Regions from separate parts of the Homo sapiens genome. Here region 1 is linked to region 2. Evidence: fine-mapped expression QTL. A gene starts in region 2. The other region holds a variant in brackets. All regions are shown on one strand. Distances are from middle to middle. Region 1 overlaps ZNF780A (zinc finger protein 780A). Region 2 holds the start of ZNF780B (zinc finger protein 780B).

Region 1 (17,004 bases), 20 kb after region 2:
TAGCAGCCAGATTTCTTGGTCTCAAAGGCTCTTTTCCTCTAAATAGAACCAGGACACCCTACGAGGGTACTGAATCATGGGTTGATTCCATGACTCAGGACAAGAGGCATGGGGAACATGGACCAACAAAGAAGGATCAGTCTAAAACATCTTCTTAGGACCTGAACACAATATTCATTTAAAAAAAAAGAAAAAAAGAAGTCAAAAAAACAAATGTAACTGGACTCCTACTGGCTACACATCAAATTATCATAATTACTACAGATGCTTCTCAACTTATGACAGCGTTATATCCAAATAAACCCATCACAAATTGAAAACATCATATGCCAAATGTGTATTTATGACCTACAATATTTTCAACTTAACATAGCCCCATCTTAGTTTGAGGAGCATACTCTGACTGAGTATGTCTTAGTCCATTTTGTATTGCTACAAAAGAATATCTGAGGCTGGGTGATTAATAAAGAGGTTTATTTGGCTCACTGTTCTGCAGAATGTACAAGAATCATGGTGCAGCATCTGCTTCTGCTAAGGGTCTCAGGCTGCTTCCACTCATGGCAGATGATGAAGGGAGAGCCAGTGTATGCAGACATCACATGGCAAGAGAGAAAACAAGAGGGTGAGGGAGGAGGTGCCAGGTTCTTTTGAACAACCAGCTCTCACAAAAATTAACAGAGCGATAGCTCACTCACCCCTCAATCCAGAGAGGGCATTAATTTATTCATGAGGGATCTTCCACCATGACCCAAACACCTTCCATTAGGCCCCACCTCCAACACTGAGATCAAACTTCAACATGAGATTTGGAGGGACAAATATCCAAACTATAGCAACATATCACTTTTGTACCATCATAAAGCTGAGAAATTGTTAGTTGACATTGTTGGGGACCATCTCTATAATAGTTCATTGGAACAAGTCTGTTAAAAATCATGTTCATACTGATACACAAAACATGTAATTATCATACATCTAGTATCATGTCACACTCAAAAGATAAATGGTTATAAATTTTACAAAAGGAGGCTGCAGTTAGGAATGTTTAATTTACTGTTTGTTGATAGTAGGTGAGAAAGAACTGTTCATATGCCTTTTTTCCACCAACTTGATGTTTGTTTAGAAGGTATAGTTACCTATTTGTATTGATCTGTAAAAGCAAGATGGAACAAATACAGAAAAGTTTGAGTAAGCCAGACACTTTTGGAAGGGGCAGTGTACTAGAAATGGGAAAAATGTATCCATATTAACGGCTACTCGTAACTCCTATGAATCAGGTAAAAGGAGGGCCAAATAAAAATCAGTGCTAGGGAGTGAAGGTCAGACTCACAAACCAAATAAATGAAATATTCAATACATTTCACAATAAGAAAATACCCCAATGTCCTAATGAAAAAGAATAAAAACACATACTCGATCCTCTTCTCCTAGGAGATGAAATATATTGTTTTAAAAATGAGTTACTCCAATAAGATATGAATAAGCAATATATAAATATATAATAAACATAACAGACCAGTTAGATATATAATAGACAACAGATTAAATACTGCTGACTAAGCACAACTTAAGGGGATTATATAATTAAATGTATCCAAAAAAACCATTATTGAATTGACCTGTCACTTTCTAATACATCTTTGTTACTAAAAATTTAAGCAACTTAGTAACCATGACTCTGGGTCATCTGATATCATAATGTGGTTCAAGGTCCACCAATCTTCTGTTTCTTTGATTGTATTTCCTTGTTTCAGGACAGGTAAAAATGTTAATATCATAATAAAGACCAAACTGTCCAATTACCAAAACTGTGAAGCAGCAACAATGTCAAAGAATTACAAATAAAAGGAATAAGAATTTTTTGAAAAGCAACTAAAATTGAGAAAATTCTTTTTATAAGTGAATTCAGTATGTTCACTGAGCTTGTAAGCAAGGAAATAGTCTATGGATGCCTTCTCTGCTTTTAAAAGTAGTAGGTGATTTTTAAATTTTTACATAATTGGTTTGTAACTTTAGCAAATATTTTAAAGTGTTTTATTATGTTTGCAAAGGGACTGTGACTTCCAACTTAGAAATCCCAAGATTGCATGATGATAGAGTTTCACTGGAAGGCCTCCTGGGATCTCTTTTTTATGACAATTCTTAATGAGATACCAGAATGTGCAATGACCCATAAAGGAGTTGTGCTGGGTTAATACCCAGGGAATCTGTTGAGTTCAAAAAAGAAAGTCAAAGAGAATCAATATGAAAAAGATGAAAGTGGAAATAAAAAATAGGAACATGAGACTAGAAAGCCAGGTTTTAAATAGCCTCGTTTTGTAAGATTTATAAGATCACTGCATTAACAAAACCTGAAAAATGTTTAGAAAATTATAACTTTACCTATGATTATAGATACAATTAAATGTTAAGAAATAGAATTAAGTAGTCTATCAAAAGCATAATAATCTGATAAGGATATATTCACAAAAAGAAGAAAGCTATCAATATAAATTATCATTTTATAGATTTTTAAATGCACTGGAATAAAATCACAAAGGATTATTATTGATCTTTAAAAAAGTTAATCTCTCTAATTCATGATGCCACAATGGTATCATGTTTTATAGCTTGATTTAAAGGCTTAATTTTTTTCAAAGTTTATCAACAGCTCACATACCAGCCATGATGTATAGGTGCTGATGATAAATGCTGAACAAAAACAAGGTTCCAGACAAAATAATCTTGGCTCCCTGAATAAACTAGAGGGTGCTAATTTTGTACTGAATATACTGTCAGCCTTATCACACAAGTTGACTTATGTTGACAACCTTAATGGCATTCATTTTTGAATAGTCTATTTCAATTTTCATTTTGTATTCAATCCACAGCTAAAATACACATGATTATAAATATTCAGAGGTCAAAGTCTCTCCATAGATTATTTATGCACTACAAATTAGATCTTTACAATGGACTTATGGCGGTTACCAGCTTACCCAAATGATCAAACTTAGTTTCACTAATGCAAGGACCTGTACTTAAATGTTTTCTGACAGTGAAATATGCCATACAAATAGCCTACAAAGTATTCTTCCCCAAAATGTTTAATCTGACCTAACAGAGCCTCTGGACTCAAATTCCCTTGTACAGAATATGCAACAAAGAGAACAACACTAAATGACACTATAAAGAAAGAAATCTAAACACATAGACAATTTTCCTGGGCTAATCAAAATTCAATCTCATTTTTTAAGAATGAGGAGATGGACCAGGCCTTTTCAAAACTATCAAGCAGATAGTCAGGGCCTGTGAAGTGTGCCAAAGAAATAATCCCCTGCACTGCAGGCCATACATTTCAATCTCTGTATCTTTAACCTCCTTGTTAAGTTTGTCTTTTCCAGAATCGAAGCTGTAAAGCCACAACTCATTCTTCAAATGGAGCCCCAGATGCAGTCCATGACTAAAATCTACCGCGGACCCCTGGACCGGCCTGCTAGCCCATGCTCCAATGTTAATGACATCGAAGGCACCCCTCCAGAGGAAATCTCAACTGCACAACCCCTACTACACCCCAATTCAGCAGGAAGCAATTAGAGCAGTTGTTGGCCAACCTCCCCAACAGCACTTGGGTTTTCCTGTTGAGAGGGGGTACTGAGAAACAGGACTAGCAGGATTTCCTAGGCCGATTAAGAATCCCTAAGCCTAGATGGGAAGTTGACCACATCCACCTTTAAACACGGGGCTTGCAACTCAGCTCACACCCGACCCATCAGGTAAGAAAGAGAGCCCGCTAAAATGCTAATTAGGCAAAAACAGGAGGTAAAGAAATAGCCAATCATCTATTGCCTGAGAGCACAGCGGGAGGGACAATGATCAGGATATAAACCCAGGCATTCGAGCCGGCAACGACTACCCTCTTTGGGTCCCCTCCCTTTGTATGGGAGCTCTGTTTTCACTCTATTAAATCTTGCAACTGCAAAAAAAAAAAAAAAAAGAAGAATGAGGAGAAAGGAGAAATGTTCTAGGTCAGTGGCTCTCTAACTCTGGTTGGTATCACAATCACCTGGAGAAATAATAAAAAACATAGAGGCCCAGAATTATAAGCTAGGGCTTAAGCCTCTGTAGCTTTACTAAGTGCCACTGTTGATTCTAATACCTACCAAAATTTGAGCGCCTACATTCATAGGATTTCCAGGCTACAATACACTAAAGAGAGATAACCAAATGCAATGCAGATTCTGCAATGGATTCTCCTTTGAATATGAATAGCTGTAAAAGATGGTTTGGAAGCCAATGAAGAAATCTGAAAATGGAATGATATTACAGAATTATGAATACTTTCCTTAACGGTAATTATGGTACAATGGCTATATGATATTGTCTATATTGTCTTCATGTTTGGTTGATACACACGTTGATTAAATAAAGGGTAAAGTGTCATGATGTCTAAAACTTATTCTCAATGGTACAACAAATATACAAAAAATAAACGTGCAAATTGTTAACAATTTTGAATCTAGGTTGGGGTATATGATTGTATATTTGACTATTCTTTCAAAACCCACAACAAGTATCAACTAGGTTTACCATCTTTTATGGGCAGAATTTGTGGTATCCCAAAGCAATTACAATAGCAACATCAAAAATCACTGGTCATTGATCACCATGATAGATATATAACAATGAAATAGTTTGAAATATTCTGAGAATTACCAAAATGTGACATAAAGACATGAAATGCACACCTGACGTTGGGAAAATGGACCTGATCGTCTTGCTCACCACAGGGTTGCCACAAACCTTCAGTTTGTATAAAACACAATAACTGCAATGCACAATTCAGCGAGGTATGCCTGTATCTGGTAAATTATTTCATAGGGAGTACATTGTGAACATGACAACTACCCTATATTCCTCATTCAAAGACTTTCTCACAAGAATTATCTTCTCCGAACTCTAAGGTATTTAGTGTGGCTATAAAACGCCCCACATTCCTTACACTCAAAGATTTCTCAGAAGTATGAATACTCAGAAGTTGAGCAAATCCCAGGCCATGATGAAAGTTCTTCACACATTCTTTTATGTTCACAAGATTTCTCATCAATATGAGCTCTCTGGTGTTGAGTAAATTTTTCGTACACAGTGAAGGCTTGTCCACACTCCTTATTGTCACAAAATTTCTAACTATTCTGAATTTTCTGATGTTGAGACAGCTGATCATCCACAGCAAATGCTTTCCCATATTCCTTACATTATAGCGTTTCTCACCAGTATGAATTTTAACATGTTGAACAATGTTTGAGCTACAACTAAAGGTCTTCCCACATTCTGTACATTCACAGGGTTTCATACCAGTATGAATTCTTTGATGTGCAGTCAGGACCAAACTAAATCTGAAAGTTTTCCCACACTCCTTACATTCATAGAGTTTCTCACCAGTATGAATACTCTGATGTTGAACAAGGTTTGAGCCACTATTGAAGGCCTTCCCACATTTCTCAAATTCAAATGGCTTCTCGCCAGTATGAATGACCTGAAGTCCAGCAAGCTGTGTCAGAAAACTGAAGGCCTTTCCACATTCTTTACATTCAAAGGGTTTTTTACCAGTGTGAATTTGGTAATGTTAAATAAGTGGTAATGATATCTAAAGGTCGTCCTCCACTCCTTGCATACAAAGAGTTTCTCACTGGAATGAATTTTCTGATGCTGAATAACGTTTGAACCACAAATGAAGCCTTTCCCACACCCCTTACATTCACATGGTTTTACACCAGCACGAATACTCTGATGTTGAACATGGTTTGAGACACGATTAAAGGACTTTCCACATTCCTTACATTCAAGATGCCTTCTCACCTGTGTGAATGTTCTTATGGCGATTAAGCTGGGTGGGAAGACTAAAAACCTTTCCACATTCCTTACATTCAAAGGGTTTCTCACCAGTATGCAATTTCTGATGTCGAATAAGTTGCATATGAAGTCGAAAGGCTTTCCCACACTCCTTACATTCAAAGGGTTTCTCACCAGTATGCAATTTCTGATGTCGAATAAGGTGCATATGAAGTCGAAAGGCTTTCCCACATTCCTTACATTCAAAGGGTTTCTTTCCAGTATGAATACTTCGATGTTGATTAAGATTTGAACCACGACGAAAGAATTTCCCACATTCCTTACATTCAAATGGTTTTTCACCTGTGTGAGTTTTCTGATGTTGGGAAAGTTGTAGGTAAAGTCTAAAAGCCTTCCCACACTCCTTACATTCATAGGGCTTCTCACCAGTGTGAATACTCTGATGTTGAACAAGGCTTGAGCCACGATTGAAGGCCTTCCCACAGTCTTGACATTCAAATGGCTTGTCACCAGTATGAATTCGAGAATGTTCAATAAGTTGGCAATGATATCTAAAGGCCATCTCACATTCCCTACATACAAAAGGTTTCTCATTGGAATGAATTTTCTGATGCTGAATAAGGTGTGCACCACGATTAAAGCCTTTCCCACACTCCTTACATTCATATGGTTTTATACCAGCATGAATACTCTGATGTTGAACAAGGTTTGAGCTACGATTAAAGGACTTCCCACATTCCTTACATTCAAACGGTTTTTCACCTGTGTGAATGTTCTTATGGCGATTAAGCTGGTTGAGAAGACTAAAGGCCTTCCCACATTCCCTGCATTCAAAGGGTTTCTCACCAGTATGAATCTTCTGATGTCGAACAAGCTTTGTCAGAAGAGTAAACGCCTTTCCACATTCTTTACATTCAAAGGGTTTCTCACCAGTATGAATTTGGCAATGTTCAATAAGTTGGTAATGATATCGAAAGGCCATCCCACATTCCTTACATACAAAGGGTTTCTCATTGGAATGAATTTTCTGATGCTGAATAAGGTGTGCACCACGATTAAAGCCTTTCCCACACTCCTTACATTCATATGGTTTTACACCAGAATGAATACTCTGATGTTGAACAAGGTTTGAGCTACGATTAAAGGACTTCCCACATTCCTTACATTCAAACAGTTTCTCACCTGTGTGAATGTTCTTATGGCGATTAAGCAGGGTAAGAAGACTAAAGGCCTTTCCACATTCGTTACATTCAAAAGGTTTCTCACCAGTATGAAATTTCTGATGTCGAGTAAATTGTATGTGAAGTCGAAAGGCTTTCCCACACTCCTTACATTCAAAGGGTTTCTCTCCAGTATGAATACTCTGATGCTGAATAAGATTTGCACTACGACTAAAGTATTTCCCACATTCCTTACATTCATACGGTTTATGTGTATTGCAAATAAGAGAAGCATGAGGAGTATGAGTAGGCAGTTTTTCATAGCTGATCATCTTTTGATTGATATTTCCTTCTTGATATCCCTGTAGTCCCTCAAATTGTCTATATTCTGAGTCATTTCTAAAATAAAAGGCCTCAATGCCAAGAGTTGTACTTATTTGCTTTATAACCTGTTTGGGTAAATTTACTTCAGAGGTATCATTTTCTGGAGATACTTTCTCAGGTCCATATTTTAACTCCAAATCTGAAAGAAATGAAGAAAGCAAACCTATTTTATTTTCGTATAACACACATGCATACAAAGTCCTTTTGTCAACTGAAACCATCAATTCAAACCAATAAAACCTTTATTGATTTTATTAGCCAAAACCAACAAAGTTGGTAGATAGAACCTTTCTCATATCACTTCTGTTTCCAGTGGAAGCAAATGCACATCTGAGCCAGCCTGGTTATGTACATGTAAAAATAGGAAAATGAACCACAGAAGATTGAACCTAACTAGGTCAACTATCTGTTGAAACATATTGATATGTTCTATAGGACTTAAGACCATGAGACCCATAGTTTCATAGTCAGTAATTAGAATGTCCAGGATACAATCCAAATATACTGGCATATACAAGAAAATTTCAACTCACATTGGAAAAGAAAATCAACAGCAGCATTCTGCCAGGGGCCTGGGGATCACCCCACCCCTGCTTACCACAAGAACCAGCACGTACAACTGGGGGGCCTAAGGTCAGGTCCAGCAGACCCAGCTCTGTGCCCAAGTCCCCAAGCACACCATCTGGGGACCTGGGGATCACCCTGATCCATCTACCACCTTTGCTACCTAAGCACTCATCACAGAGGCCTAAGGTCAGACACATACAACCTGCTGTTTCCTCCACAACTGGTACCCACCTGTACTCACAACCGGAAGTTCTGGGGACTGGCCCACCCAGCCCATCATAGTCACCTCCAACACTAAGCACTTACTGCTTGGGAGCCAGAAGGTTGTCCTGTTCACTACTACTACCATCACCCATGCCACACTTGCTGCCCAAGAATCCAAGAACCCATCCACCTACCCAGCATACCACTACCACTGCCAGCACTATCCAAACTACGAGGAGGCCAAAGAATCAACGTGCCTAGACACACTAATACTAGTACCAGCATACACTATGCTGGGGCCCCAAAACAGGCACATCTGGACTGCCACTGCCACCACCAGAGCCCAAGGACTTGCCTACCTTGTGTCCTCGTGCTAGGCCATTCTTGCATTAAAGGAATACCTGAGACTGGGTAATTTAC[G/A]AAAAAATGAGTATTAACTGGCTCATGGTTCTGCAGGTTGTACATGGCGCTAGCATCTTCTCAGCTTCTGGGGAGGCTTTAGGGGCCTTTTACTCATAAAAGAAGGCAACACAGGACAAAGAATGTCACACAGCAAGAGAAGGAACAAGAGAGAGAACAAGAAGAAGTGCCATATACTTTTAAACAACCAGGTCTTGCAAGAACTCACTTACTATTGTGAGGACAGCACCAAGGGGATGGTGCTAAGCCATTCATGAGAAATCCACCCCTATGATCCAATTACCTCCCACCAGGCCCCATCTCCAACACTGGGGATTACATTTCAACATGAGATTTAGAGGGGAAAATATCTAAACTATATCACTCCTCATCCCCAATAAAACTTCACCATACCCTCCACTAACCATCACAACCAAAGCCAAGGAAGAAATCACAGACACCAAAGGCACTGTTTACAGCCAAAAAAAAAATCATAACACTACATAACAACACTACTGCACACGCCCAGAATCAAAGCGAAAATGCCCTATCCAACCCTATTAACCATAGGTACATCTTTAGGAAAAAAGCCTCCCCTACAAAAGCAAATTCAAAAAAATGAGAATAAACACAGGAAATAACAAAAAAAAAAAAAAGAGAAGGAAACTTGACATCTCCACAGGAACATAATAATTCTCCAGAAACATTCCAATGGGAGAAAAATGCTATATCCTAGCAAAAGAATTCAAAATAATTATATTAAAGAAGCTAAGTGAGATACAAGAGAATTCGGAAGAACAATACAAACAAATCAGAAAAAAAAAACTCAGGATAAGAAGAAGAAACTTACCAATTTCATTATAAAAAAGAACCAAACAGAAATTCTGAAACTGAATAATTCATTGAATAAAATATAAAATACATTCAAAATCTTCAACAACAGACTAGATCAAGTAGAAGAATCTCAGAACATAAAGCCAATTCTTTTGAAATAACCCAGTCAGACAAAAATAGAAAAACAAAAAAAGAAGAAGAAACAAAGACCCTATATGGGACATCATAAAACAACCAAATATTTGAAATTTTGAGGTCCCAGAGATGAAGAGAAAAAATAAAGGAAAGAAAATCTATTTAATGAAATAACAGCTGGCAACTTTCCAATTCTAGCAAGAGATGTAGACATCCAGATACAGGAAGCTCAGAGATACCCAAATACATAACAACACAAAAAGGTCTTCTCCATGGCACATTATGGTCAAAATATAAAAGTCAAAGACAAAGAGAGAATACTAAAAACAGGAAGAGAAAAGCATCTAGTCACTTACAAGGGAACTCTCATTAGCCGAACAGCAGATTTCTCAACAGAAAGAAATGAGAGAGAATGAAATGGTATATTCAAAATGTTGAAAGAAAAAACTTGCCAGTCAAGGATACTATCCTCAGCAAATTATAAAACATAAATGAAGAAGAAATAATCTTTCCCAGGCAAAAGCTGAGGGCAGACCAGCTCTACAAGATATGCTTAAGAGTCCTACACCTAGAAGTGAAAGAATATCTGCCATTGTGAAAACACACAAAATTATAAAACCCACTGACACAGCAAACACAAATAAGCAGAAAGAACCCAAATGTTACCCCTATAGAAAACAACCAAACCACAATGATGAAAAATAAAAGAGAAAGAAAGGAACAAAGGATACACAAATCAACTAGAAATCAATTAATAAAATGACAAGAATAAGCCCTCACATATCAGTAATCACATTGAACGTAAATGGATTAAACTTTTCATCTAAAAGATATAGATGGAATGGATTTTTTAAAAAGTGACCCAATTATATGCTGCCAACAGACTCATCTCACTGGTAAAGACATATATGGATTGAAAGTAAAGGAATGGTAAAAGATATTCCATGCAAATGGAAACCAAAAGTGAGCAGGAATAGCTATATTTATATCAGACAAAAAAGATTTTAAGTCAAAAGCAGCAAAAAAGAGACAAAGAAGATCACTGTATAATGATAAAGGGATCAATTCAGCAAGCGGATATAACAATTCTAAACATACTATAATCCCAACACCAGAACACCCAGATATATAAGGTGAATATTATTAGATCAAAAGGGAGAGAGATGTATTCCAGTGCAATAATCATTGGGGATTTCAACACCCCACTCTGAATTACACAGATCATCTAGATAGAAAATTAACAAGAAACATTGGATTTAAACTTCACATTAGACAAAACAGGCCTAACAGACATTTACTGAACATTTCATCAAATAGCTACAAAATACACATTTTCTCATTAGCACACAGAACATTCTCTAGGATAGACCATATGTTAGGATGCAATTCTTAACAAATTCTTCAAAACCAAAATTATATCAAGTCTTTTCTCAGACATGGAATAGAATGAGAAATCAGTAACAAGAGGAACTTTGGAAACTGTACAACACATGAAAATTAAACAACCTGCTCCTATATAACCACTGGGTCAAGAAAGAACATAAGGAGGAAATTAAAAAATTTCTTGAAACAAATGAAAATCAGAATACAACATACCAAAACCTATGGGATACAGCAAAAGTACTGCTAAGAGCAAAGTTGATGGCAATAAACACCTACATTGAAAAAGCAGAAAGATTTCAAATAAACGATCTAATGAAATTAGGGCAGAACTAAATAAAATACAGGCTAAATAATACAAAAGATCAATGAAATGAAAGGTTGTTTTTTAAAAAACATAAATAAAATTAATAAACCACTAGCTAGACTAACCAAGAAGAAAAGAGAAGAAATAAGCAAAATCAGAAATAAAAAAAGGAGATATTACCACTGACACCACAGAAACAGAAAAGATCATCAAAATAGAAAAGCTGAACAGGCCAATGAGTAATGAGATTGAATTAGTAATAAAATGTCACCCAAAAAAGAAAACTCCAGGACTGATGGCTTCACTGCTGAATTCTATCTACCAAACTCTCAAAGAACTAATTCTCCTCAAACTATTCCAAAAAATTTCAGAGAAGGGAATTCTCCTTAACTCTTTCTATGGAGCTGGCATACCATGAAACCAAAACCAGACAAGGAAGAAACAAAAAAAGAAAATAGTTCTAGCCTAAAGTCACATGAATGCCTATGTTTATTGTAGCACTATTCATAATAGCAAAGACATGGAATCAACCTAAATGTCCATCAATGGTTACCTGGATAAAGAAAATGTGGTACATATACACCAAGGAATACTATGCAACCATAAAAAAGAACAAGATTATGTGCAGCAATATGGATGGCATTGGATGCCATTATCCTAAGCAAATTAATTAAGGAACAGAAAACCAAATACTACATATTCTCACTTATAAATGGGAGCTAAACACCGAGTACACATGGACACAAAGAACAGAAAAACAGACATCAGGGCCTACTTGAGAGTAGAGGGTGGGAGGACGAAGATCCAAAAACTACCTATTGGGTACTATGCTTATTACCGGGGTGGTGAAATAATCTGCACACCAAACCCACCACAACATGCAATTTACCCATATAAAAAACCCACTTATGTACCCCTTGGACCTAAAATAAAAGTTGGAAAATAAATTAAAAATAAATAAATAAATGGTGCTGGAAAACTGGATATCCGTATGTGATAGAATGAAACCAGACCCCTATTTCTCACCGTATACAAAAATCAACTGGAAATGGATTAAAGACTTAAATGTAAGACTCAAAACTATAAAACAACTAAAAGAAAACATAAAGGAAGTGCTTCAGGACATTGACCTAGGCAAAAATTTTCTGGTTAACACTGCAAAAGCATAGGCGGCAAAAACAAAAATAGACAAATGGGACTATATTAAACTAAACGCTTCTGCAGAGCAAAGGAAACTATCATCGGAGGGAATAGACAAAATTAAATGAGAGAAATTATTTGCAAACTATTTCTCTGACAAGAGACTCAAATAACAGGAAAAAAAAAAAAAATCCAATTAAAAAGTTGGCAAATGGGCTGGGCACGATGGCTCACACCTGTAATCCCAGGGCTTTGGGAGGCCGAGGCGGGCAGATCATCTGAGGTCAGGAGTTCAGGAACAACCTGGCCAACATGGTGAAACCCCATCTCTACTAAAAATACAAAAATTAGCCAGGTGTGGAGGTGGGCACCCGTCATCCCAGCTACTTGAGAAGCTGAGGCATGAGAATTGCTTGAACCCAACAGACAGAGGTTGCAGTGAGCCAAGATCAGATTACTGCACTCCACACTGCAGGACAGAGCAAGATTCCACCTTAAAAAAAAAAAAAAAGTTTACCCTGGGAAAAAAAGAGGGAACTTACTCCACTAAAAGGGGAAGGAAATAAGAGAACAGAAATTAGGTGATTAGTAAATGATGAAGTTCCTTGGTGATGGCTTCTGCTGTAATCTTTATTTCCTTCCCAGGTCTTGGGCATTTTTATCCAACAGGACTTGGGTCACTGAAGAAAGCTTTTCAAACCACATCTCAAGTGTATGACTCCTTTCTGAGCACATGTCCAGGACAATGATGGCTTCCCCCCGCCTGCTTTACCCTCACTTACCTGGATACCGTCTGCTTGTTTCTTTCCTTACAACCATCCAGGGCTCTTTCTCTTGCTCTAGTAACGTAATTACATCTGGTTTAGAAATGGAACTTCCTGCTTAAAAGAAACGACACATGTAGAATTTTTTTAATACAGATTTTTTTTTTTCAAATCTTTGTGACCTGCTTAAACTTACAATAAATTACAAGTCAAAACAATATTGAAAAGAGACTTCAGATAAGAGTGAGAGGTTGAGTAAGAGAACTCTTTTCTAACTATGTTAGAAAAGGACTTCCTTTCATTTAAACTCAGAATCTTATCCCTTGAAAAGAGGTATAACTGAATGGTTGAGAGCAGGAAACTTCAATCCAGACTGCCAGGTTCAAATCCTATCTCTGCTACTCACTAGCAGTATGACCTCAGGTAAGTCACTTAAACTCTGTCCTTCAGTTTTCCCAACTCTAAAATGGGGATGATACAATACCTATTTTATAGGATTGATACTAAGACAAAATAAGTTATATATATGCAAAATACTTCTAACATTGCCTGATGTACAGTAGCACAAAGTCAAGAATTATTGTTTATTATTGTCATTTATTTTGCATCCTTAGACATTTATAGCTCACTCAGTATATTCACTAAATGAAAATACATAAACTCCATGGTCTGAAACTTTCAACTGCAAAACAATGGAATGTTTATTGAAGGAAATGAAATGCATTCCCTTTAGTGTTAAATGAATTTCTGTCAACCCAATCAGTATACGTAAATAACAGACATTTTTGTTTGTTTGTTTTTGGTTTTGAGACAGGGTCTCGGTCTATTGCCCAGGCTGGAGTGCAGTGATGGGTACAGCTCACTGCAGCCTCAACCTCCCAGTGATCATAGAGGTTTCTCTGATAGAAAAATTCAAGACACTCTTCTCCTTACAGATGGGTTAGAAAAACAAAAACAAACCAACAAACAGAAAATCTACAGTAATTCTGAGATCAAACATAATATGAAATCTGGTTCTTAGACAATATCTTTCAATGAATGTACAAGATTTCAAATTCAGCCCCATGGTCATGAAGAGAGAGGCAATTACAGAGAGGACCAGCGTAACGAAGGAGGCCATTGTGGAGTAGGCAAGATGCAGGGGCTCCAGGGAGGTGCCTGTTTTCAACCCAACAAATCCCAATCCATTCCTTTGGGAACAAGAAGAAGGAATTCAGCCACCTCTTAAAAGATAGCCCTGAAATTCACGGTGAAGAAAGCTGATATTCCAGAAAATAGATATAAAAATAGCTGGGACTCAACGACCTTACCCAGTGAGATCAGGTGGCTGTAGTTCTCCAACATCACATCCCTGTACAAGGTCCTCTGATCAGGCTGCAGGCACTCCCACTCCTCCTGAGAGAAGTCAATGGCCACATCCCTGAATGTCACTGATCCCTGAAACCACAAACACATGTATAATGGTGAAACTGAAGAAAGTTGTTTTAAGATGAAAGGAGAGGAAGTGAAGGAGTGTAGTGTAAGAAAAAAGCAATATGGAAATTCACAGAGTGCCTGCACATTCTTCAAGAAGTCTCCTGCTGGCTGAGTATGGTGGCTTATGCCTATAGTCCCAGCACTTTGGGAGGCAGAGATAGGAGGATTGCTTGAGCCTAGAAATTTGAGACCAGCCTGGGCAACATAATGATATCCCATCTCTGCAAAAATTAAATAAGTAACTGTGTGTGGTATCACGTACCTGTAGTCCCAGCTACTCGGGAGGCTGAGGTAGGAGTATTGCTTGAGCCCAGGAGTTCAAGGCTATAGTGAACTGTGATCACGCCACTGCACTCCAGCCTGGGCCACAGAGCAAGACTCTGTCTCAGAGAAAAAAAAAAAAAAAAAAAAAGGTGGCATACAATTAAAGAATGTTCTTAATCCTCAAGTTCATTATGGTATGAGATGACAGCAAAAGTATTTTTTCTTGTCATGACAACTGATTTTTATAAGCTGCATTAAAGTCAATAGAACTCACATATTAGATTTATTCATTTTTTTTCTATTTATACGTTGAGGATGGCCAGGGCCTCTAAGGATTTCCCCAATTCTGAGAATTTTTTATTTTTTATTTTTTTTCTGAGACAGAATTTCACTCTGTTACCCAGGCTGGAGTGCAGTGGCACGATCGCAGCTCACTGCAACCTCCACCTCCCAGGTTCAAGCGATTCTCCTGCCTCAGCCTCCTGTGCAGCTGGGATTACAGGTGCGCACCACCACAACAGGCTAATTTTTTTTTTTCTTTTTTTAGAAGAGATGGGGTTTCACCATGTTGGCCAGGCTGGTCTCAAACTCCTGACCTCAAGTGATCCACCACCCACCTCGGCCTCCCAAAGTGCTGGGATTGCACGCGTGAGCCACCATGTCCAGCCAGAGAATCTGTAATCACCTATCATTCATGCCCTGAATTATCTTCTCCCTGCTACTGCCCACTGTCCTCACCTATCATTTTCCTAAAAGCCTCATAAAGCAGATCACCTTGTCACACTTGCAGACTGAGGCTACTCACTATGGAATTCTACCTTAGCTACCTGGAAAGCTCTAGTCTGTAAAGTTTCAAAGTGTTCCCAAGTGTGGTCAATCATCTGTAACTTATCAAACCCATAAGACCCTGTTTCCCTGTGGGGACTGATTCCTCCACTGTTCCAATATTCTTCCTGACCAAGGTCTGAGCACAGAGCACAGACTGAATAACTTTTTCAAAGAAAACATCAAAGCCAGTAGGAAACAGAGGTACAAATAGGAAGAGCAGTGACTTTTTTTTTTTTTGTCACCAACCTTCACTGTAATGGGACAAACTGGGGTGTAAGATCGTGAATTCTAGGTACGAAGCTTCAGGTTAAATAATAACAGTCACCTAACCTGAAAGTCACCATATTTCAAGGAAAAGAGAGAAATACAAACTTACATGGACCATGTTGCTAGAATTACAAAACTGGTCAATCTTCCTCGGGCTTCTCCCCTGGAAAACAACAACAACAAAAAGGCCACAATTAAAGCTGTGTCTCAAAAGCAAATAACTATTTTATCCTCCGTTCCTATTTCTCAACTACTCCTGCTAACACGCACACTTCCACCCTTCTCCCATCACTCCCCTTGCCCCCACACACACTCTCTCACAAATAGCTGGCAGTGAACGGGTGGAGTAGGGATGAAACCAAGCTCTCGCCTGCATCCCAGGGAACCTGCGGCAGAAGCATGAATGCCGAGCACAGGCATTTCTGCCTTGAAGTTGTGGCTTCCAGCCAGTCCTCCATTCTTGGGATACCTATCTTGGCCTAGGTCTGGACCTCTGATCCTGCCCTTAGCAGATCCTCCTCCCCCAGTCCCACCTTTCAGAGCTGAGAAGGGATTGCATCATCCAAACCAGAACCTCTTTGTGAAATCAGGATTGGGTGCAGTGGGGGAAGGCATGAGAACTGGAAAGCATATTTGCACTGGCAGTGTTTGCACCAAATTGCACTGACAGTGTTCAGCATTCTAAATTCAGCAAAAGCCAGTTGGTTAATACAGTTCAGAACATCCACTTAATAGAATACAAAGTAAATATTAAACGTTCAAGATATATGATTAACAGAAAAATCAGGTTACAAAACAGGATAGATAATATGATTACATTTGTAAAATATATGTATATAGAAATACTAATAAAAAGACTAACAGACATTAATAGAAAAAAATTTAGAAAATTATATACATGTTAAGAGTTCTCCTCTGTGTATTGTAGCTCCAATTTTCTTCTTTTTGCTTAAGAGCATTTCATGGCCGGGCACGGTGGCTCACACTTGTAATCCCAGCACTTTGGGAGGCTGAGGCAGGCAGATCACGAGGTCAGGAGATCGAGACCAACCTGGCCAACATG
Region 2 (17,004 bases):
TCTTCAAGAATCCTGCTGCTGGCCTGGTGTGGTGGCTCATGCCTGTTATACCAGCACTTTGGGAGACCAAGGTGGAAGGACTGCTTGAGCCCAGGAGTTGGCAAACAGCCTGGGCAACATAACGAGATGCACTCCCTGGAAAAAAAAAAAAAAGAAAGAAAGAAAGAACTGTCGTGGTGGCATGTGCCTATAGTCCCAGCTACTTGGGAAGCTGAGGTGGGAGTATTGCTTGAGCCTGGGAGTTCAATGCTGCAGCGAAGTGTGATGGCACTACTGCACTCCAGCCTGGGCTACAGAGTGAGACCCTATCTCAAAAAAAAAAAAAAAAAAAAAAAAAAGGTGGCAGCATACAATTGAGGAATGCCGTTAATCCTCAAGCTTACTGTGGTATCAGATGATAGCAAAAGTATTTTTTCTTGTCATGACAAATGATTTTTATAAGCTGCGTAAAATTCAAAATAACTGACATATTAGATTTAGTCATATTTTTCTATTTATACATTTAAGATGGTCAGAGTCTCTAAGGTTTTCCCAAATTCAGAGAATCTGTAATCACCTACCACTCATGCCCTGAATAATCTCTGTTACTGCCCACTGTCCTCACTGATCACTTTCCTAAAAGCCTCATAAAGCAGAACACCTTGTCACGCTTGCAGACTGAGGCCACTCACTATGGAATTCTACCTCAGCTACCTAGAAAGCTCCAGTCTGTGGAGGAGTTTCAAGGTGTTCCCGAGTGTGGTCAAATGCGACAATCATCTGTAACTTATCAAACCCACAAGACCATGTTTCCCTGTGGGGACCAACTCCTCCACTGTTCCAACATTCTTTCTGACCAAGGACTGAGTTAAGCACAGACTGAATAACCTGCTCAAAGAAAACATCAAAGCCAGTGGGAAAACAGAGGTACGAATAGGAAGAGCACTGACTTTTATTTTTTGGTCACCAAACTTCACTGTAATGGGACAAAGTGGGGTGTAAGATTGTGGATCCTGGCCAGGCACAGTGGCTCACGCCTGTAATCCCAGCACTGTGGGAGGCCAAGGCAGGGGGATCATGAGGTCAGGAGATCGAGACCATCCTGGCTAATATGGTGAAATCCCATCTCTACCAAAAATACAAAAAATTAGCCAGGCGTGCTGGTGGGTGCCTGTAGTCCCAGCTACTCGGGAGTCTGAGGCAGGAGAATTGCTTGAACCTGGGAGGCGGAAGTTGCAATGAGCCAAGATCGCACCACTGCATTCCAGCCTGGGTGACAGAGCAAGACTCCGTCTCAAAAAAAAAAAAAAAAAAAAAAAAAAATCGTGGATCCTTACGTAAGAAGGTTCAGGTTTAATAATAACAGTCACCTAACCTAACCTGAAAGTCACCATATTTCAAGAAGACAGAAACACCAACTTACATGGACCATGTTTCTAGAATTACAAAATTGGTCAATCTTCCTCGGGCTTCTCCCCTGGAAAACAACAACAACAAAAAGGCCCTAAGTCAAGCTGTGTCCGAAAGCACTAGAACGAATAAATATTTTATCCTCCATTCCTATTTCTCAACTACTCCTGCTCACACGCACACTTCCACCCTTCTCCCGTCACTCCCTTTTTCCCTACACACACTCTCACAAATAAACTGGCAGTGAACAGGTGGAGTGTGGATGAAACCAAGCTCTCGCCTACATCCCAGGGAACCTGCGGCGGAAGCATGAATGCCGAGCACAGGCATTTCTGCCTTGAAGTTGTGGCTTCCAGCCAGTCCTCCACTCTTGGGATACCAATCTTGGCCTAGGACTGGGCCTCTGATCCTGCTGTAAGCAATCCTCCTCCCCTAGTCCACCTTTCAGAGCTGAGAAGGGCTTGCATCATCCAATCCAGAACCTCTTTGTGAACTCAGGATTGGGTGCAGTGGGGCAAGGCATGAGAACTGGAAAGGATATAGACAGAATTGCATGGGCAGTGTTCAGCATTCTGAGTTCACCAAAAGCCAGCTGGGGTAAGTACAGTTCAGAATAGCCATGTAATAGAATACAAAGTAATCATTAATTGTTCCAGACATATGATTAACAGAAAAATCAGGTTACAAAGCAGGATAAACAATACGATTACATTTGTAAAATATATGTATATAGAAATATTAAGCAAAAGACTAATAGACATCAATACAAAAATTTAGACAGGTATATGCATGCTAACAGTGCTTATCTCTGTATTGTAGCCCCAATTTTCTTCTTTTTGCTAAAGAGTATGTCATAATTGTGACTATGCCCAGGCATTTAACTTAGAATATATAATTATATTCACACACACACACACACACACATATATACACACATATACACATGTGTATGTATCTATATATGTACATATTTAAATGTACATACACATTTTTTTTCTTGCGAGGAAATTGTTCTCCAAATTAGATGAAAGACATCTTTTATTTAGACATTTTCCTTTCAACGTGGGGACAAAAAAAGGAAACTCTACTGAGCTCTTGTTTTTATGTAATAAATTTGTTTCCATTATTTCCCAATTCTTGACCAACACTAAGATGTCTATGTTTTTCTATGTATGTTAGTACAATTTCTAAAAAAAATTGTCTACAAGTCTTCAACTAATTTCTTGTATGCATTAATGATGGTCATATTTCTACATCCGAATTCAAAAATAAAAATAAAACAGAGTTAACAGAGAGTGAGTACTTTTAATCATAAAAAACAAAAAACTGTGCCTGTCATGAGGATCAAAAAGATTAATGTGACTATAACAAATAACATCAGCTAGTTCTGACATCCTTTAGCTGTATCTCACCAATATAATTAGACATTTTCATTATCAAGACTCTTCTCTGAATGAACACAATGCAGATAAGTGGCATCTGGAAACTACATGAGAAAATCTGTGGAATGTACATCACCATGCTTGGTTCCCTTCTTCACCAAATAACTCATTAAAATATCATTTTGGATACAATTCCTACAGAATGCCTTACAAAAACCCTATCTTAGTATATGGGATTCATATACATGTAACATTTTCTTGAGTATCATTGTTCATAGCATGAATACTGCTTAATGGTATATCAAATATTTTTCTTTTCATAATTCTTTATAGACATCATTTTATTAGCTGCATAATACTTTATCACTTGAGTCTAGTATAATTTGCTTAGTGATTTCCATATTACAGGACACTTGATTTATATAAGATCATTTACAGTGTCATTCCAGGTATCACAATCTTTTGATTCTAGACTAAGGTTTTTCACCCTAGGCACTAATGACATATTGTGCTGTATAATCCTTTGTTGGGGCTATAGGGAGGGTTATCCTGTGCACGGTACAATGTTCAGCAGTATCCCTGACCTCTATCCACTAGATCTAAGTAGCACCTCCCCCATGGTGTGACAACCAAAAGTTTTTAAACATCACCCCCGCTGAGAATCAATGTTCTATCTAGATCAATGGATCCAAACCTCATGGGTCACATACAGTTTTGATAGTCTTATGAAATGATATACTATTTCTCCCTCTAAAACCCACATTGATAAATTTCCATAGTACTTCAATACATTATTTCAAGAGCTTTGTGGTCCCCAAGACCATACGTGGAGTTACAAGAACTCAGATTAAGAATTTCAGTCCTACATTCTTGACAAAAATAGAAAAAAAAAAATCCTAAAATGTGCATAGAACCACAAAAGACCCAAATAGCCAAAGCAGTCTGGAGCAAAAAGAACAAAGTTGGAGGCATCAAACTACCTGACTTCAATATATACTACAAAGCTATAGTAACCAAAACAGCATGATACTGACATAAAAACAGACACCTAGACAAACGGAACAGAATAGAGAGCCCCAGAATAAATCCATATGTTTACAACCAACTGATTTTTGAGACAGGTGCCAAGAACATACAATAAGGAAAAGACAGTCTCTTCAATACATACTGTTGTGAAAACTGGGGAGTCATACACAGAAGAATGAAATTAGACCCTTTTCTCAAACCATTATACAAAAATCAACTCTAAATGGATTAAAGATTTAAATGTAAGATCCCAAACTATGAAACAAATAGAAAAAAACGTACGGGGAAAGCTTCATGACATTGATCTGGGCAATAATTTTTTTTTCTAGAAATGACTTCAAAAGCACAGGCAATAAAAGCAAACATAGACAAATGAAATTACATCAAGCTAAAAAAGCTTCTGCACAGCAAAGTGAAGAGACTACCTACAGAATGAGAGAAAATATTTGCAGTCATGTATCTAATAAGGGGTTAATATCCAAAACGTGTGAGGAACTCAACAGCAAGAAAACAACCCAATTAAAAAATGGGCAAAGGACCTGATAAACACATCTCAAAAGACGACATATAAATGGCTACAGTATATGAAAAAATACTCAACATTACTAATCATCAGGGAAATGAAAATTAAACCTACAATAAGATATCACCTCATATGTGTTGGGGTGGCTATTGAAAAGACATAAGTTAACAAATGTTGGTGAGAATGTAGAGAAATGTGAACCATTGCACACTGTTGGTGAGAATGTAAAGTGACACAGACATTATGGAAAACAGCATGGAGGTTCCTCAAAAAATTAGAAATAGAACCACCATATGATCCAGCAATCTACTACTGGATATTTATCCAAAGGAAATGAAATCTGTATACCAAAGAGACACCTGCACACCCATGTTTATTGCAGCACTATTCACAATAGCCAAGATATGGAATCAATCTAACTGTCTATCAATGAATGGATAAAGAAAATGTGGTATATATGCAGGTATATATACACAATGGAAAACTAGCCATAAAAAAAGGGAAATGCTGTCATTCGCAACAACATGGATGAACCTGGAGAAATTCATATTAAGTAAGCCAAGCACAGAAAGGCAGATGATCTCACTCATCAGTGGAATCTGAAAAATGTTCATATAGGCCAGGTGCGGTGGCTCACACTTGTAATCCCAGCACTTTCGAAAGCGGAGGCGAAGGCCGAGGCAGGCGGATCACCTAAGGTCCAGAGTTCGAGACCACCCTGGCCAACATGGCAAAACCCTGTCTCTACTAAAAATACAAAAATAAGCTGGGTGTGGTGGCATGCACCTGTAGTCCCAGCTACTCGGAAGGCTGGGGCAGGAGAATTACTTGAACCCGGGAGGCAGAGGTTGCAGTGAACCGAGATCACGCCACTGCACTCCAGCCTGGGCAACAGAGTAAGACACTCTCTCTCAAAAAAAGAAAACACTTGATATCATAGAATTAGAGAAGAGAATGGTGTTTACAGGTCGGGGGTAATGTGGGTGAGGGAGGGAAGATGGTGTTGGCTGGGGAAATGTTGGTCAAAGGATATAAAATTTCAGGAAGATAAGAGAAATAAGCTCAAGAAATCTATTACACAACAACGTATCTACTATTAATAACTACTATTAATAACTATTCTGTAGTGCTAAGAGAGTGGATATTAAGTGTTCTCACCACAAAAATGATAACTATGTGAGGTAATGCATTGCTAATTAGCTAGATTTAGTCATTCCACAATGTACATATACTATAAAACATCATGTTGCACACGATAAATACATACAATTTTATCTGTCAATTTAAAAAGAACTTCTGTCCTAGATCATTTGAGCAACTCACTCATTTTCTTACTATGCAAGCAGCAATCACAATGAATCACATATTCCCAATGCTCCTGTCCTATAGAAAGTCAAGGGAAATGACCTAAAATGACCACACGAAAACAAAAGCTAAAACATTAAACATTTATTATTATATGCCTAGCACTGCTCTAAGAGGTTTTAGAGTATTAATTCATTCTAATGTTCATTACAAGCCTGAGAAGACCAGAAACGGACAGAACAAACATTCCAACCCAGATACTCTGGATCCACTCCCCTATTCTTAACCGCAACAGCGTACTGCCTCTCACAGTTCACACAAATAGCCCAAAATGCAACCGGAACTGCCGAATCTCACAGAGATCTGGCAAGTATTACAATTATCATCTCATGGACTCTCCCGAAAAATCCTGACTCTGGTTGATACCAATTTCTGTGCAATCACTTTCCGATTCCTGAAAGCCTCACAGACGAATGGAAATCACCCAACCATCTCCATTCTTCCCTACTTGGAAAAGGAGGCCTGTAAAGAGTCAGAAACCTGGCGTGTGATTCCACAAACTAATCTTCTTTTCAAAGCAGAGTCTAAAATAAAGCTTTAATATAAACCTCTGGAGGACTATTTTTATACCAGCTTAGAAGAAGAGAGCGTACAGGAAGGTGTGAACGATTTGCCAAATGGCTCTGTGAATATTAAATGGCAAGGTGGGGAGCGGGCGGGGTGGGGAACGGCTCGCTGGGAGGCGGCACAATGGGAGGGGGCAAGAATCAATTTGCATATTCTCCTGAAATTCACTAAAAATTTACAGGAACCTCTATATTCTAAAATCAAAAACGCATTTCTTGAACAAATACAAAGCACAAACTCACCCTTGACTTAAGTGTGCAACAATAACGCTCTCATCCTCCTCTCGGTCCTTCTTTTGGATAATAATACGACTGGAGAAGGATACGGCAAGCGTGAGACTCCAGGCTTTTCTTGGAGCGCAGACTAAGTTTGAAAGCACCCTCCATGGCCACAACTTCCCTCACTTCGTACGAAATGAGAAGGAAATAAAAGGAGGAGGAATCGGTCTGAGTTCGAAGCTGGTTCCTGGGGACAGATCTCTGAGGGACGCTGGGTTCTCAACATGTAGCTGCCCTCCTGGGGGACCCTCAAGAGGCACTTCCAGCTCTCATATTCCCACCCCGAGTCCAGATCTGCGCCTTCTTGTGCAAAGCTTCATTCTCGGTTCAATATCTAACCTCCCTACTGGGGACATTTTCATTCCTCTGCTGCAGCCTCTGCAGCTTTGAAGGGGAAAGACGGAGGAAGCAGCAGGAGCCTAGTACCACCGGCACAGTGACACTCACACAGCCCCAGCAAAACGCACTGCGTCCACACGCCGTCCCGGTCCTGTGCACAGGGCCTCACGCACACACTCACACAGTCCCCTCCGTCACTCAAGATCGCGCAATCCCCATCCTTTGATGCCCGCGCACACGCACGCCTAAGGATCTGGCAGATTCCGTCTGCGCCCCGGGTTCCTCCTCTGAGCGCCTCGCTCTCGCCCACCCGCACTGCCGGGTCGGTCAGGTTCGAGTCCCAGTCCACGAAGACCTCCCGCAGCCACCGATTTCTTCCTAGGACGTGAAGACCTTACCCAGCTAGGTCGTCAACCCCAGGAGACAGGAAGTGGAACCGCTAATTCCGGTGCGGTGGCCTCTGGGAAATACAGTCCTGAGCAGAAAGAACCTCAGAAGTCTTGGTCTATGGTCTGTTCAGGTTGATCCCAGCATACATTGGGGGCTCCTAAGGGACCCGAGCCTAATGGATTTGTGGGAGTTCCAGACCGTGGGGTGCAGAGGTTGCGGCCACGGGCGAGAATCCCCATCTGAGAGGAGCGTTGCTGTTTTCGGTGCGTCAGGGTAAATTACCTTTTCTCTCTATGCAAAAGAATGCAAATGAGCAGAACTTTTAAAGAAGAATTTAAAGTAAAATTACGTCAAAATGTAGCTGCTTTGACCTCTTCGTCTCAGATCCGAGCATAGGCTTCCCCTTTGTGCTATTTGAAGGGACTTAGGATAAATTTGAAAAGCCTGAACTAAAGAAATGGTTGGAGAGACTCCGTCTCAAAAAAAAAAAAAAAAAGAAAGAAAGAAAGAAAAGGAATCGTTGGTTTTATACTAGAAGAGGAAGTGTGGTTTACATGAGAGATTTCAGAATCAAATATACTTGATTCTTCAAGACAATCTTCCTGTTATCTGGAGAGAAAAACGTGATTCAGGACGGCATGGAAACAGATAAAAGTACACAGAGAATTACTTGCCTTATCTTGAAGGATGAATAATTAACACATTTTCTTAAAACAGTCTAAATAAATGCCAAAGGGGGTTTGTTTTTCGTAGGAAAAGCTTGATTTCACTGTTGTAATCTAGCAACATTGAACTTTCAAAATGATTTTTGTAGTTTCCTATGCTATATAAAGCGGAAACGTGGAATAATGAAGAGCAAAATGTCTTTTCATTCCCGACTGTGACAGAAAACAGATAGCAAGATAACAAACTTAATTGGATCAATGATCACATTAAGTGTAACTGGTCTAACACCTTAACTTAAGAAGGTTGTCAGGTTGGATTTTTTTTTTAAAAGTCAGACCCAAATACGTGCTACCTACAGGTAATACTTAAAATATAAAAGCACTAATAGGTTAAAAGTAAAAGGATGGAAAAATATATAAAATCCTAACACTAGTCAAAAGAAAGCTGGAGTGGCTATATTAAAAACAAAGTGACTTCACCAAAAAGACTATATCAGGGATAAAGAAAGTTACATCATCATAATGATGAAGGATACAGTTCATCCAGTGGAAAGAACAAACCTAAATTATGCTCTTAATACAGCTTCTAAGTATGTGAGTAAAAACCTGTTAGATCAATAAAGTAACAGACAAATCCACAATTATAATCAGATATTTCAACATATCTCTCTTGGTAATTGATAGAACTAATGCAGAAAAGCAACAGGGTATAGATTATCTAAACAACATATCAACCTGCTTGATCTCATTTACACTTCTGGAACACTCTTCTCAAAGACAGTAAAATTCATCTTAGGTGGACAGGAGACACTTTCCAGCGTATACCATATTCTGGGCCATAAAGCAAGTCTCCATAAATGAGTAAATGGACTCAAGTCATACAAAGAATGTTTTTGACAAAAATGGAATTAAATTAGAAATCAATAACAGCTCACTATATATTGTCCAAAGTAGTAAAAATTTGAAAATGTATGAATACTATGATAATTGAAATTATATAATGTTTGAAAATTTCCTTTATGAGTCATAATTTTCTGTTATATCCTAAAGGGTAAACAATAACATATTTGCATTAAAACAAAATAATGTTTTTGTAGTAAGGAAAAAATTTTAAGCTATCTATATTGACTATGCATTAAAGAGCAGAATAATTATTTTTGGTATATATTCCAATGCTTTAATCAATTTCTTAGCCAGTATCACCATATTTTTAAGGATTTTTTTTGACACAGTCTATTATTTTTAAATTTTGATAAAATTGTATGTAATCCTCAATGCTGGACTTTATGGTTAATAAACTTGAAATTATAGCTACCTTCAAATGGCGCTTCTCTGAACACCATACCTTTTAAATTGAGATATATACTCTGCATATACTAAGGTAATCAGAAGTCTTAGAATATAGCCAATGAAATGGAAAATATCCTCATGAGTATTGTGAATATGGAATATTAGATTGCAAATATTTTAGCAGTTGATGTATTTTGCCTTCACAGTACATTTCTACTTTTTTTTTTGCCACTTAGTCTAGGAAGGGTACATTTATTTAAAAATTATTCCTAAAGCCAAACAAATTGGCTCAATTTATGATACCTTTGAATGTTAAGCCAAATTTAGGTGTTACGGAAACATAAACCTTCTCAATTGCATTCCATTCTAACACAAATTGTAAATGTATCCAGTTAGAAATGGGAGCACCATCAAAAGACTACTGCCATAGCTGAAGAAAGTCCTATGCAAAATTGAAGAATTTCAAAATTAAATCCTGTATATAATACGTTAGTTCATGACTTTATTTATTCAGTTTCTTCCTTAATTTGTAGGACTAAATCCCATTGTCTTCATGTTGGCAAGTTCTGATAACTGAAATTCTGTTGAATTTCTATACTGAATAGGAGTAAGGATAGATGATATCACTGTTTTGTGCCAAATCAACAGAATCTTAAACAACCAAAGGGTTAAAGAACAAATAAAAAGAGAATTTAGAAAACATTTTAGATAAATACAAATTTACTAAAGTTCATGAGATGCTTACTGCTCAGGGAAAAATTTATAGCTCTACATGCCTATAAAAAGGAGGAAAGATGTCAAATCAATGACCTAACTGTATACACTTAGGAATTAGAATATGAAAAATAGAAAAAAAAAAAAAGCAAAACCAGGAGAAGAAAGGAAATAATAAAGATAAAAGTGAGGTTAGATTAAATAGAAAATAGAAAAATAATAGAGAAAACTTACAAAATTAAAAGCTGGTTCTTTGAAAAGATCAAAAAAAGTGGCAAAACTGTAGCAGGACTGAACAAGAAAAAAGAGAAAACATCAAAATTACTAAAGTCAGAGCTGAAAGTGGAGACATTACTAAACTTACAAAAATGAAAATGATGATAGAAGAAAATTATAAACAATTGTATGTCAACAAAATAACCTAAATGGAAAGGAAAAAGTCCTAGAAACACACAAACTATCACTGACTCAAGAAAAAATAGAAAATCTTAACAGGAGTGATGTCAGCAAGATAGAAGAATGGGACTTTCCAGCACTTAGCTCTCACAGAAACATCAATTTAAACGTATATCTATGCATGAACAAACTTTCACAGGAGCTAAAGAATCCAAGTAGCTCACTCAGAGGGGATGGGAATGAAGCAGCTAGTAGACAACTGTCTCTGAGACAGCAAAAATGTTGGATTTAGCAAAGATCTGAAAGCAGCTATTTTAATTATGTTCAAAGAACTAAAACAAGCCATATGTAAAGAATTTAAAGAAGAGTATGACAATAATACCCTGCCAGAGACTATCGACAGAGAGATGGAAATTATTACTGCAATGAAAGAACCAAGTAGAAATTCTAGAGTTGAAAAGCACAATAACTGAAATGAAAAATTCACTAGAAGAACTCATAGCAGATTTAACCTGAAAAAAGAATTAGTGAACTTGAAAATAGGTCAAGTCAATAAAATTATGCAGTCTGAAGAACAGAAAGAAAAACAGAAGGAATAAAAATGAAGAAAGCATCAGAGGCATGTAGTACACCATCAAGCAAACCAACATACATATAAGAGGAGGGTCAGAAGGAAAGAAAAAGAAAAAATGCTTGAAAAATAATGGCCAAACTCTCTGTGAAGTTGATCACACACATGCACACACACCTACATTTACAAGAATGTGAACACACTCCAAGTGGGATAAACCCAGATATTAATACTTAATCAACATGTCTCAAGGAGAGCTACCCCAGAGTCAAATTGTCAGAAGCCAAGAACAAAGGGAAATCTTGAAAACAGCAAGGGAAACATTATTCATCATATAAACGAGATTCTCAACAGGACTACTGGCTGACTTCTCATCAGAAACAACAGAGAACAAAAGGCAGTGGGATGAGATTCAAAGTACTAAAACAAACAAAAACAAAAAACAAAACAAAACAAAACAAAAACAAATAAAACCCTACCAGTCAACCAAGAATTCTATATCCAGAATATTCTCTCTCAAAATATAGATAAAATAAAGAGAATTGCAGATAAGGACTGAAAGCCTTTGTTGCTAGCAGACTTTCCTAATAAGAAATATTAAAGTTCTTTAGAATGAAGGTGATGGTCACTGGAATCCACACAAAGAAATAATGAGCACTGATTAAAGTCATTACATAGGTAAATAAAAGATAATATACACTTTTACTTTTTTATTTTAACTGATTAAAGATAACTGCATAAAACCATAATTATACAATTGTATTATTTTGTTCATAATGTATAAAGTTGTAATTTGTGTCACATTCATATTACTATGATAGCACAAAGGAAGGGAGCTATATTGGAGTAAACTTTCTGTATACTATTGATATTATTTTATTTATTTTGATTTTTAAAATTTTATTTCTAATTTTTTGTAGAGACAGGGTCTCACTATATTGCCCAGGCTGGTCGTGAACTCCTGGGCTCAGGCAATCCTTCCACCTCAGCCTCCCAGAGTGCTGGGATTACAGGTGTGAGCCACCATGCCTGACGACTACTGTTATTATTTTAGCAATAATCTCAATTAGATTTTTTTAAGCTAAGATATACATTAGTTCTTTTTAAAAGCTGAAAACAGACGGAAAACAAAAGGATGGAAAAAGATACAAATAGATACCATACAAATGGTGATCAGAAGAGAATAGGAATGGTTATACTACCATCAGACAAAACAGGCTTTCAAAATGTTACTAAAGAAAAAGAGATTTATTTAATGATAAAAGGGCAAGTTAATTAGAAAAATATAACTACAATGAACGTATATGCTCCTAAAAACAGGAGACTACATACATGAAAGGAAAACTGACAAAACTGAAGAGAGAAAATGACAGCTCAACAATAGAAGGTGGAGATTTTAACACTCTATTCTCAATACATACAACAACTAGACAGAAAATCTGCAAGGATATAGAAGACTTAAACAACACTACAAACTAGTTTGTCTTAACTGATGGTTGGTTGAACACTCAACCAACAATAAAATACATACTCAACATGCAACATTTTCTAAACTAAACAATATACTAGACTTATATATGGCAAATCATAATATTTTTTATAAGTAAGTCATGCTAAGTATATTCTCTGACCACAGTGAAAATAAAATTAGAAATCAAACACTGAGGAAATTTGGGAAATGTAAAAATATTTTGAAATTATTCAACACATTGTTAAATACCCCATGGATCAAAGAATAAATTATAAGAGAAATTAGGATGTATTTTTTATTTTACTTCCTAAAAATAGAGATGAGAATCTCACTATGTTGATCAGGCTGGTCTCAAACTCCTGGCCTCAAGCAACCCTCCCATCTTGGCCTCCCAAAATGCTGGGATTACCGGCATGAACCATCGCACCTTGCCTAGAATGTATTTTTAATAAAAACAAAAACAATCCAAATTTTTGGAGCAGCTAAATATGTTTTTATTTTTAGCTTTAAATGCCTATAGTGCTAGAAAAGAATAAAGATGTAAAATCATTTGGTAGACTTCACCAGTGAAACCATGTAGTCTTTGGCTTTTCTTTGTTAGGAGGTATTAGATTGCTATTCATTCTTCTTACTGGTCATAGGTATATTCAGATTTTCTATTTCTTCATTATTGAGTCTTAGAAAGGTGTGTGTTTCTAGAAACTTTTCCATTTTGTCTAGGTTATCAAATTTATTGGAATACCGTTGTAAAAAGTACTCTTGAATAATGCTTTTTATTAGTATACAGTTGGTAGGAATGGAATGTTCCCTGTTTCATTTCTGATCCTAGTTATTTCAGTCTTCCTCTCTTAATCAATCTGCCTAATGGTTCTCAATTTTGTTGAGCTTTTCAAATAACCAACTCTTAGTTTTACTAATTTTCTCTATTTTTTATTCTCTAATATGTTAATCTCAAGCCTAATATTTTCATTTCCTTCCTTCTACTAGCTTCAGATTTAGTTTCTTCTTCTTTTCTAGTTTCTAATGGCATAAAGTTAGGGGGCTGACTTGAAATCTTTCTTCTTTTTTAATGTAAACACTAACAGCTATAAAATTCCCTTAACACTGCTTTTGCTGCATCCCATAAATTTGGTATGTTGTGTTTTCATTTTCATTTACCTCATTTTCATTTGTTTTGATTTCTTCTTTGATCCACTAGTTTAGAGTGTGCTTAGTTTTCATATACTTGTGGATTTTACAGTTTTACTTATGCTATTGAATTCTAGTTTCAATATTTTAACATTATGACTTCTTCTGTGGCCTAAGACATAGTTTATCCTGGATAATAATCCACATGCACTTGAGGAAAATGTGCACTCTGCTATTGTTGAGTGGAAATGTTATGTATATATGTGTGTTAGGTCCAATTGGTTCAAGTCCCCTATTTCCTTATTTATCTTCTGTCCTGTTCCTCTACATATTATTAAAAGTAGTGTATTGAAGTCTCCTACTATTATTGCATAGATGTCTATTTCTTCCTTCAATTCTGTCAATGTGTCCTTCATATATTTTGGAGCTCAGGTGTTTAGTGTATATGTATTTGTAATTGATATATCTTCTTGGTAAGTTGACCCTTTTATTATATATTCTTTGTCTCTTCTAACCTTTTTTAACTTATAGTATATTTTGTCTGATATTAATACAGCCATGCCCACTCTTTTTAATTGCTGTTTGCATGAAATATCTTTTTTCTTCTTTTCACTTTCTTTTTGTTTGTTTTTTAGACGGAGTCTCGCTCTGTCACCCAGGCTGGAGTGCAGTGACACGATCTCGGCTCACTGCAAGCTCCGCCTCCTGGGTTCACGCCATTCTCCTGCCTCAGCCTCCTAAGTAGCTGGGATTACAGGCGCCCGCCACCAAGCCCGACTAAGTTTTTGTATTTTCAGTAGAGACGGGGTTTCTCCATGTTGGTCAGGTTGGTCTAAAACTCCTGACCTCAGGTGATCCGCCCGCCTCGGCCTCCCAAAGTGCTGGGATTACAGGCGTGAGCCACTGCGCCCGGCCCATCTTTTCACTTTCAAACTATGTGTGTCCTTAGATCTAAAGTGACTTTCTTATAGATAGCATTTAGTTGGATCTCGTTCATTTATCGTCTCCCAATCTATGTCTTTTGATTGCCAAGTTTGATCCGTTTACATTTAAAGTAACTATTGATAAGGAATGACTTATTTTTGCCATGTTGTTTTTTTCTATAGTTCACCCAGTCCCACATTTCTTTTCTTACTGCCTTCCTCTGTGTTGATTTTCTATAATAACACATTTAAATTTTTTATTCATTGTATTTTTGTTATTTTCTTAATGGCTGCTGTAGGGTTTATTATATACATCTTAGAATCAGCTTCAGAATAATACTAACTTGATCCCAGTGAGATATATAAATGTTATTTATATAGTTCTAATCTATCCTACTTTTCAATTCTATTATTGTTCTACATTATTATGTCTACACATGCTACAGACTCAAAAATACATTATTATACTTATTCTGTATAGGTTTATGTCTATTAAGGATGGAATAGAGTATATATATATTTATATGGTATTTTTGATATATAGCTTTTTATTTACTATTTCTACTTCTTTTTATTTGTTCCTATGAATTCTAGTTACTATCGCGTATCATTTCTTTACTCCAATACAACTCTGCTGTCATTTACTTCCTTTATGCTGCTATTGTCAAATATATTACATTTCCATGTCATATGGCCAATAATACAATTATGTACATATTATACAATTGCTTTTTAAATCTATTAAGAGAAAAAAGTAAAAGAAATGTGCATTTATGCTGCCTTTTATAATTACCATTTTGTGTGTGTGAGACACAGAGTCTCACTTTGCTGCCCAGGCTGGAGTGAAGTGGCATGATCTCAGCTCACTGTAACCTCTGCCTCCTGGTTTCAAGCGATTCTCCTGCCTCACCTTCCGAGTAGTTGGGACTACAGGTGCACACCACCATGCCCAGATAATTTTTGTATTTTTAGTAGAGACGGGGTTTTGCCATGTTGGCCAGGCTGGTCTTGAACTCCCAACCTCAGGCAATCTGCCCGCCTTAGCCTCTCAAAGTGCTGAGATACCAGGCATGAGCCACTATGCCTGGCTATAATTACCTTTAATTATAAATATTAATTTTGTTCTTTTTAAAAATGTGATTTTAAATTTTCATGTGTTTTACTTGCTTTCAGTATTAATAACTTTTTTTTTTTTTTTTTACAATTTCTCATATGGCAGATCTGGGAGGGCTTTGTTTCACCTTTTTTTTGAAGGCAGCATTACTAGAAATAAGATCATGGTTCACAAAGCTTTTGTCCTTTGAGTACTTTGAATGTATCATCCCACTGCCTTCATCCCCTCCATTGTTTCTGATGAGAAGTTTGCTGTTAATCTATTGGGGTACCCTTGTGGCACATTGTTTTTCTCTTACAGCTTTCAACATTTCCTTTCACTTTTAACATTTTTACTATGACGTGTCTGTTTGTGGATATGTTTGCATTCATTCTGTTCACAGTTTGTTGAGATGCTTGTGAGTATAGATTAATGTTTGTTCAATAAATTGTGGATGTTTTTAGCCATTATTTCTTTGAATATTTTTGTGCTTCTCTTTCTCCTCACCTTATGGTATTCTCATTACATGTACACTGGTGCACTGAAAGGCGTCCTGAATTTCTCTGAGGCTCTGTTTATATTTCTTTGTTCTATTTTCTCATCCTATTTCTTCATTTTCCTATTCTATTTTCTAATGGGAAGATGGAATTGAGGTTGCATAATTTCTATTGATCTATTTGAAAGTTTTCTAATTCTTCTGCCAGCTCAAACTTATTTAGCCCTTCTAATGATTTTTTATATTAGTTATTATAGTCTTCAACTCCAGAATTTACATTTGGTTCATCTTATGATTTCCTTTATTGATATTCTTTATTTGATGAGACATTATCTTTGTATTTTCCCTTACTGCTGTGAATATATATATAATGGCTACCTTGAAGTTTTTGTCTTTTAAATCTGATATCTGTTCCCTGTCAAAGGCCATTTCTGTTGCCTGCTTTTTTCCTGTTTATAAGTCGAACATTTCAGTTTCTTTGTATGTCTTACAATTTCTTGTTGATAAGTGGACATATTAGGTAACATACTATAGCGATTCTGGATACTGATTCCCTGTCCCCTTCTTCAGAGTGGTTTTTGTTGTTGTTCTTCAGAGTGGTTTTGTTGTTTGTTTTGTTTTGTTATTTGTTTTCTGCTTTGACTAAGCTATTTTAGTGAAGTAGCTTGCAGTGGGAAGCATTTTGTTGTTCTTCAGAGGGTGCAGCCTTGGACATATGCAGAGTTACTCGTAGTTATTTGTTTTGTGTTTTCACTAAGCTATTTTAGTGAAATAGCTGGCAGTGGGAAGCATTTTGTTGCTCTTCAGAGGGTACAGCCTTGGACATACGCAGAATATACCCTGGTATGGTTTTAAACAGGAGTCTCTTTGACCATCTTTCCCTGATCTCTCTGTTAAGATGTTTGTCTCCTTTGGTATTATTTCTAGCCCACTAGGCTCCACTGGCTTCTGTCTGATCAGTCTACTGTTCTCCACAAGTCCTTGGAGCATTAATTACT

The links.
Region 1: its variant is fine-mapped to the expression of ZNF780B in whole blood (TOPMed, PIP 0.98).

The regions. Positions count from the first base shown.
Region 1 is chr19:40,068,695-40,085,698 of GRCh38, forward strand. It overlaps ZNF780A (zinc finger protein 780A), which reads right to left. Exons shown (of 6, transcript NM_001142578.2): 3 at 16,051-16,104; 4 at 14,417-14,543; 5 at 13,125-13,220; 6 at 4,351-7,515. The coding sequence starts at 16,059. The coding sequence ends at 5,822. Among named protein-coding and RNA genes, the nearest start is that of ZNF780A, 14 kb to the right of the region's middle. The variant G/A (reference allele first, on the strand shown) is at 8,568.
Region 2 is chr19:40,048,922-40,065,925 of GRCh38, forward strand. ZNF780B (zinc finger protein 780B) reads right to left here and starts at 7,310. Exons shown (of 5, transcript NM_001005851.3): 1 at 7,268-7,310; 2 at 1,403-1,456. The coding sequence starts at 1,411. RefSeq lists an enhancer at 7,170-7,299.